Homo sapiens: one gene and its partner. The protein of the gene in region 1 purifies or fractionates together with the protein of each later gene. This does not show direct contact. Each region holds a gene or a part of one and is shown on either strand. Other genes may lie near its edges.

Evidence for each region.
Region 2: the proteins of KRT80 (region 1) and IFT57 purify together in Homo sapiens (affinity purification with mass spectrometry; one large-scale study listed by BioGRID and IntAct). This does not show direct contact.

What each region holds. Positions count from the first base shown.
Region 1 is NC_000012.12:52,178,515-52,182,014, forward strand, and holds part of KRT80 (keratin, type II cytoskeletal 80), read right to left. Parts: intron 2,450-3,500; coding exon 2,389-2,449; coding exon of another isoform or gene 2,095-2,388; coding exon 1,999-2,094; intron 1-1,998.
Region 2 is NC_000003.12:108,194,925-108,198,424, forward strand, and holds part of IFT57 (intraflagellar transport protein 57 homolog), read right to left. Parts: intron 1-3,500. UniProt on the Homo sapiens protein: Required for the formation of cilia. Plays an indirect role in sonic hedgehog signaling, cilia being required for all activity of the hedgehog pathway.

The DNA of each region.
Region 1 (3,500 bases):
GAGAGGCCCCGCTCATGGGCTCTGAGGCTCTTCCCTCCTTCCGGCTCCAGCGCAGCACCCGGTTTCTTTGCATCCCAGAATCTGTCACCCTGCGAAGCGATCTTGTCCAGATATTTGCTGACTTGCTTATGACTTGTCTCAGCTAAGTCATGCCCTCCTTGAGAGAAGGGACCTTGCCCAGGCTGTGGTATCAGTGCCTGGCACTTAGTAGGCATGCAATAAACATTTGTTAAATGAATGAGTGGGCTGAGTCCTCCTCACAGCCCTATGAGGCTGGTCCTGTTACTCTCTCCATGCTACAGATAAGGACACTAAGGCACAGAGAGGAGAAAAAACTTGCCTAAAGTTACAGAAATAGTAAAAAAAAAAAACAAGGCCAAGTTGGGATTGGGGCCCAAGGACTGCAAAATCCAAAGGGAACCCACAGGCCTGGCTACTGGGGCAGGGGCCAAGAAGTCTTGTGGGGTGCTCAGGAATATCACTGGTTATGCCCAGCCTTCTTCCAGTTATGTCTCTACAGCTGCAGGGCCTGCATCATGGCTTAGAGCTTGAGCTCTGAGCTTGCTGAGACATCAGTGAGCAGGTAGAGAAACACTGGGCTCGGTTTTCAGAATCTGCACTCCATCTAGGCTCGGCAGAATCTGCACTCACCCATGGACTCAGCCTCTCAGAGGCAGTATGAGTGGGTGGAGGCCTAAGGGTGGCAGAGATCCAGCCCAGTGGAGACAGGAGATGGCCCTGCTGATGCCAGCCTGGGCTGCACCAGCCCACAGTGAGTTTGGGCAGAGAAGCCCCTAGCCCAGTTCCCACCCAGCCAGTGGGCATGGTGCCCTGGTCAGCCCCATAGCACTTGGCCTGGCTGTGGGGGGATTTGTTAGGGCCAGGAAGCTTTTCAGGGCTGTGGGGAGAGCGGACTGCCTAGGAGGGCTGCCTTCCTGCTGCTCCCAAGGGTTTGCTGTTCTCTCTGCTATGCTACCTCTCGTGGCCACAAACAAGACTCAGTTCCACGGAGGCCCCAGCTGGCAGCTGGGACTGCTGGAAAGGACTGTGACCCATGACAGGGCCATGAGGCCCGGTCTTCCTTTCCACAGGATGCAGCCATGAAGCTGTGGTCAGCAGATCATAGGGCCATTTTAGCAGAATCTGTAAGTTGTGGTGGTGACTTTGATCTCAGCCTTGACCTTGGCTGCACTGCCATAGCTTGGCACCAGCAGTGTGCAGCACTTAGGCGGGCAAGCCCTGTTATCTCCAACAGTGGTGCTGCCTGCTCCTAGCTGAACTGCAGACCTCTGTGGAAGGGACTTTAGCTCAGGAGTGTCACCCCTGAACCTCCTCACCCTTGAAACAAGTGGTGTGGAGAGGAGGACACATATCCTGAAGGGTGCCTAGGAGTCAGCAGCTGGCATGGAGGAGTGGTGTCCAGAAGCCAGCGGCAGTGCCCATCTAATGGCTGTGTTGATGCATGCCATGCTGTTATGGGCCCTTGTACACTGGGCCCCACTGAGGACTTAGGAAACAAATGCGAATGTTTCCTCTGTCTTCGCCAAAAATGGGGAAAACGGAAAGGCAGGCCTATCAGAACTAGCACTGTGGGTGCTGTGGTTTAGGCTGCAGGAATTAGGGAGAGATCAGTTCAATCAGCATGCTCGTTCCAGACCCCTGGGTTCCATGCCACTGAGGCCAGCCTCCTGACCCTTGTCCGAGGCACCTGGTCCCCAGCATGCCCTCAGTACTCTAGCACACAAAGGTATAGTTCTTCCAGAAAGAGTGGCCTTTGGGGAACCAGCCCATGTTCCATGAGATGAATGTCCAGGGGTCATGCAGGGTTATTGACACCATCACAGGAAGGGGTTTAGGAAATTATTATTCTGGGGCTGGAAATTGTAAGTGACTGTTGGAGGTTCCATGCCCCACTGGATGGCTGTGCTTCCCCTGTGTCCTTTACCCATGGACCAGCCAGCTCTGGGCTTGGCAAGACACTGGCCCCATCTCACTCACCTGCTCATAGATGGTTTTCATCAACTCCACGAAGCTCTCCAGGCTTTTTAACTTGGTTTCCAGTTCAGTCCGATGAAGACACTCTGCATCCAGGTCCTGGGGTTGGCAGCAGTGGTGAGTGGTGGGAGAGGGAATGGAGGGTCCCAGGGCAGGAGTGGGCTGGGGGGCTGCCTCCTGGGTGAGAGTGGGGGTGATTCCAGAGGAGATCTGGCTCAGAGCCTCGAAAAAGGAGCTGGATGGGGATGGGGGTATCTCCCTGTCTGTCTGTTGGTCCTGGGACTTAAGCCTCTGAGGGCTTTGATTGGGCATAAAGGAGAGTAGGATATCTGGAGGGAAAGAGGGCCCAGGGCCCATGAGGAAGGAGCCCCTGGGGCAGGCTGGGCAGGCTACCTTCTTCAGCTGAACAAAGGTGAACTCCATGTCTGTGCGCTTGGAGATCTCATCCTCATACCTGGGAGGGAGAGAGGGGTTGCTCAGCTGGATATGGTGGGGGCTTGGGCCTGGTGAACTCCCCTTGGTTGGGGCTCAGGGCCTGTGCTATCCCACTTGGGGTCTCTTTGCCAATTAAAGAAAAGCAGCCCATCCTTCTCCCTCTTGCATCTTCTATGACACATCCTCTCTCTCTCCCCCCGACCTCCTGGCATTGGCTCCCCGTTCCTCACTCCCTCCTGATGACACAGTCCTCTCCCAGTGGCTTCTGCCCTTTCCTGGCTCTGCTCCACACCCACTCCCCTCCAGGAGGCCTCCCTGATTGTGCAGCCCCTCACCCTGGCACTTTATCCCCTCATCTTTACCTGACCTCCTTCCCTGGCAATCTCAGGTTCACTCAAGTCCGCTGGGAGCATCTTGCTCACACCTCACCTCTCCCACCTCCATGCCTTCCCTGCAGCCCCAGCCACCACCCCTCTGCTTTGCGAGCCAGTAGGACACCATCCCATTGTATTCCCTCCAAAGGGAGGCTGGAAAGAGTGTGAACTTTGCTGTCAGAGGGACCCCCAGTGTGTTTTTGGGCAAGTTGCATCACCCCTCCTCTCTTGGCTTCCTGCCTCTAAGGGGTAGGCATGTGCCCACGTGTACAGGGGGCTGACAAACCCACCCCTGACGCAGTTGACAGCCAGCTACAGGCCGCATAGGCCATACTCAACAAAGCTCAATAACGCTCTTCTCAGTTTGGACTTCTTACTCGCTCCCACCTTGGGTTTGGAACAAGGACACCGTTGGGTGGGGAGGACAGGACCCCCAGATCCCTGGCCCGACCCTCTTCCTCAAGTCAAGACATTTGTTTGTCTTAGCCCCAGGGTGGGTGTCTGCTGGCTCCAGACTTCTCGCTGGCCCCAGCTGCTGTGGGGATTCAGCAGCTTCTGTTTTTTTCCCTCCTATTCGGGGAATGCCTGAATCACTGGCGGCTCTAATTACAGCCGCCTGCCTACCTCAGGCCCTAGCCTCCCAGCAGGGCTGCGTCACTCATCACCCATTGAGCTGGCTATATCTGGCGCCCCTCA
Region 2 (3,500 bases), on another chromosome or scaffold:
TAAGACCTCAAAAGCACAGATAGACAAAGCAAAAATGGACAAATGGGATCATGTCAAGCTAAAAAGCTTCTGCACAGAAAAGGAAGCAATCAACAAAATGAAGAGACAACCCACAGAATGGGAGAAAATATTTGCAAACTACCCATCTGAAAGGGGATTAACAATCAGAATATATAAGAAGTTCAAACAACTCAGTAGGAAAAAAACCCAAATGATCTAATTAAAAAATAGGCAAAAGATCAAAAAGAGACATTTCTCAAAACAAGTCATACAAATGGCCAGCAATTATACGAAAAAATGATCACTAATCATTACTAATCACCAGAGAAATGCGAACCAAAACCACAAGATACCATTTTACCTCAGTTAAAATGGTTTTATCAAAAAGACAGGCAATAACAAATGCTGGCAAGGATATGGAGAAAGGGGAACACTTGTATAGTGTTGGTGGGAAAGTAAATTAATACAGTCACTATGGAGAACACTTTGGAGGTTCCTCAAAAAACTAAAAATCTATCATATAATCTAGCAATGCTGCTGCGGAGCATATACCCAAAAGGAAGGAAATCAGTATGTTAAAGAGAAATCTGCATTCGCATGTTTACTGCAGCACTATCCACAATAGCCGAGATAGGGAATCAACCTAAGTGTTGATCAAGGGATGAATGGATAAAGAAAACAAGGTATATATACACAATGGGATATTATTTAGCCATAAAAAGAATGAAATTTTGTCATTTGTAGCAACATGGATGGAATTGGAGGTCATTATGTTAAATGAAATATGCCAGGAACAGTAAGACAAATATCACATGTTCTCACTCATATGTGGGAGGTAAAAATAAGTAGATTTCATGGAGGTAGAGAGTAGAATGATGGTTACCAGAGATTGAGAATGGTAGCGGGGAGGAGGGATAAAAAGTGAATGGTTATTGGGTATGAAAATATAGTTATTTAAAACTGCATTAGTTATATAGAAAAAATAAGACCTAGTGTTCGGTAGCACAATAGGGCAACTATAATTAACGGTAATGTATTATATATTTCAAAATACCTAAAAATGTGGAACGGGAATGTTCTTAACACAAAGAAATGATAAATGCTTGAGGTGATTGATAGCCCAATTACCCTGATCTGATCATTACGCATTGTATGCCTTGTATCAAAATATCACATACACCCCATAAATATGCACTATGTGTTCATAATAACTAAAGATAAAAAAATAAAAAATATATAAAAATAAGTTTGATTTATGGAGTACCATTTGGGTGAACTGAAGCTAGATGCTGTTGATTAAATCCCAAAGCCAGTGCTCTCCAACCCTCATTTCCACCCTCATTTCCAACCCCTCTTTCTTTCCCTCCTTACAAGATTGAAGTTCAGAATCACCAAACAAGACAAGGGCGCACACCCGTCCATACTACCACTTTCTTCAGGCCTGGATGTAGGATTGTTCAAGTTGTGAATAACATACTCAAAATGTTTTACTGAAGGAAGGGCATTTTTCATAAAGGCAGATGGGTTTGCAGTGGCCATTTGAACTAGACCTAGAATCTGAGGCAGCAGGGTACATAAAGATCAAACACTGCATTAAGATATGCCACTGCATAAGCTATTTGTTTTTATGTTGGGCCCTTTAGTAAGTTGCATTTACCTTTACTAGCTTATTATTTGGTTCCCTTAAGCAACGATTTGCTAACTCCCACTCCCAATGTTCTAAAATGATTTAACATAGGAGCTCAAAAATTTTCACTCACTCGTAGGCCATAATTAATATACTAGGGGAAATGGCCCAGTTGCTAAGTGAATAAAGGGCAAAAAGAGAACATTAGGTTTGGCAGAGCAGCATTAACTTATTCAAACTATACAGTTTCTTTCTACATCCATGTTTGCATATCTATTTCATAACCTCATTCCTCACTCAACATTTCTTAATGCCTAATAACTTGATACATTAACTGAGCAAGCCCTATATATAAAGTATAAATCATTTTAAAACTATACTGTGCCTTGGTTATAATACTTTGAGAAAATTTTTCTTCCCAATTGTTTTTCCATTTCATAAATGGTACTTTATGTGGGTCACTTGTACAAGAGAAATAAACTGCTTTTCATTTAATCAAAATTTTATATCATCATGACAAAGTCCCTCTCTAACACATTAACTAATATAAAGCATTGCTTTTGGGAAATTCCATTTTCCAGTTACTGCTGCAGAAGAAACAATTAGAAGCTCATAAGACACAAGTTATCTAGAAGTCTCATTTATAATTAATTAAATTAATAAGCCATTTGTTAAACTCCTACAACATTCAAGGTAAGAATTCAGGCACTGTGCTTGGTGTGGAAAGCTAAAAGGATTTAAATGCTGCCTGCAGAGTTTGCAGACTACTAGGAAAAGTCTGAGGCCAGTTAATGGGAGTAATAATTGGTCCTAGGTAAAAGGAGAAACTGATGAGATGGGAACTGATCCTAACTGCCAAAGGAAGAACTGAAAATAACAGTCTACACTATCCCATAAAGTAACCTTGGGCTCAAACAGTGGGGCACACCATCGAAGTCAGTTCAAGAATCAAACATACAGTGTTAAAAGCCTACTTAGAATCCTGTTCCAGTAATCTTTGGTCAAGCATCAAAGAAAGGCTATGTTCTGTAAAAATATACATGAGATGGCAACTTCATGGATATACTAGTGTCCAGATTCATTTGAAGAGCTTATATCATATACCTACTGAGAGGGTGTTAAAAGTCCAATTAACTCTCAAGATTAAATACTCCCAAGACTCAAGGAAAAGGGAACTAAGTTGTCTTAAGAGTCACAACAGCATGGTGTAAATGTTAAGAGGATGGGTCTGGAATCACATCTTTGCTCAAATCCCACCTCCATGACTTACTAGCTGTTGGTCAAGTTACATAACCTCTCTAAATCTCGGAGTACCCATCTGTAAAATGAGAATAACAGCACCTTCCTCATTGGAAGGGTTGCTGTGAGCATTAAATGAGACAATGTATTTAAAAGGCTTGCACAGTGTATAATACATATTAACCCCTGGTATATTTTAGCAGTTATTATCATTACTATTACATGCCAAACACGGTACTAGATGCTTTTACATATGGGTTAAATGCCCAATAATAACACCATGAAACAGGGAGTCTTATTACCATCTTTTAAAGTGAGGAAACTGAGGCACAGAATAGTTACATGACTTTTTCAATGTCACATCTTGTGATTGGTAGGTCAGGCAGTGTTACTCTAGAGCACAAGCTCTAAAACACCTTAGCACATGTCTATCAACCCTTTGCACATAGGCTATAATTATTTTTCTCCAGTTCATCACTTGTATTTTAACTTAACGGTGTTCCCCACTCTGCTTTCTTGTAATATAAAGTTTTAATTTTTATGCATTCAGATTTGTATTTTATGTTTTTGATTTTCTTGTCATGCTTAATTATGCCTACTTCAAACTATAACACTTGTCACTCCTCATGTTTGG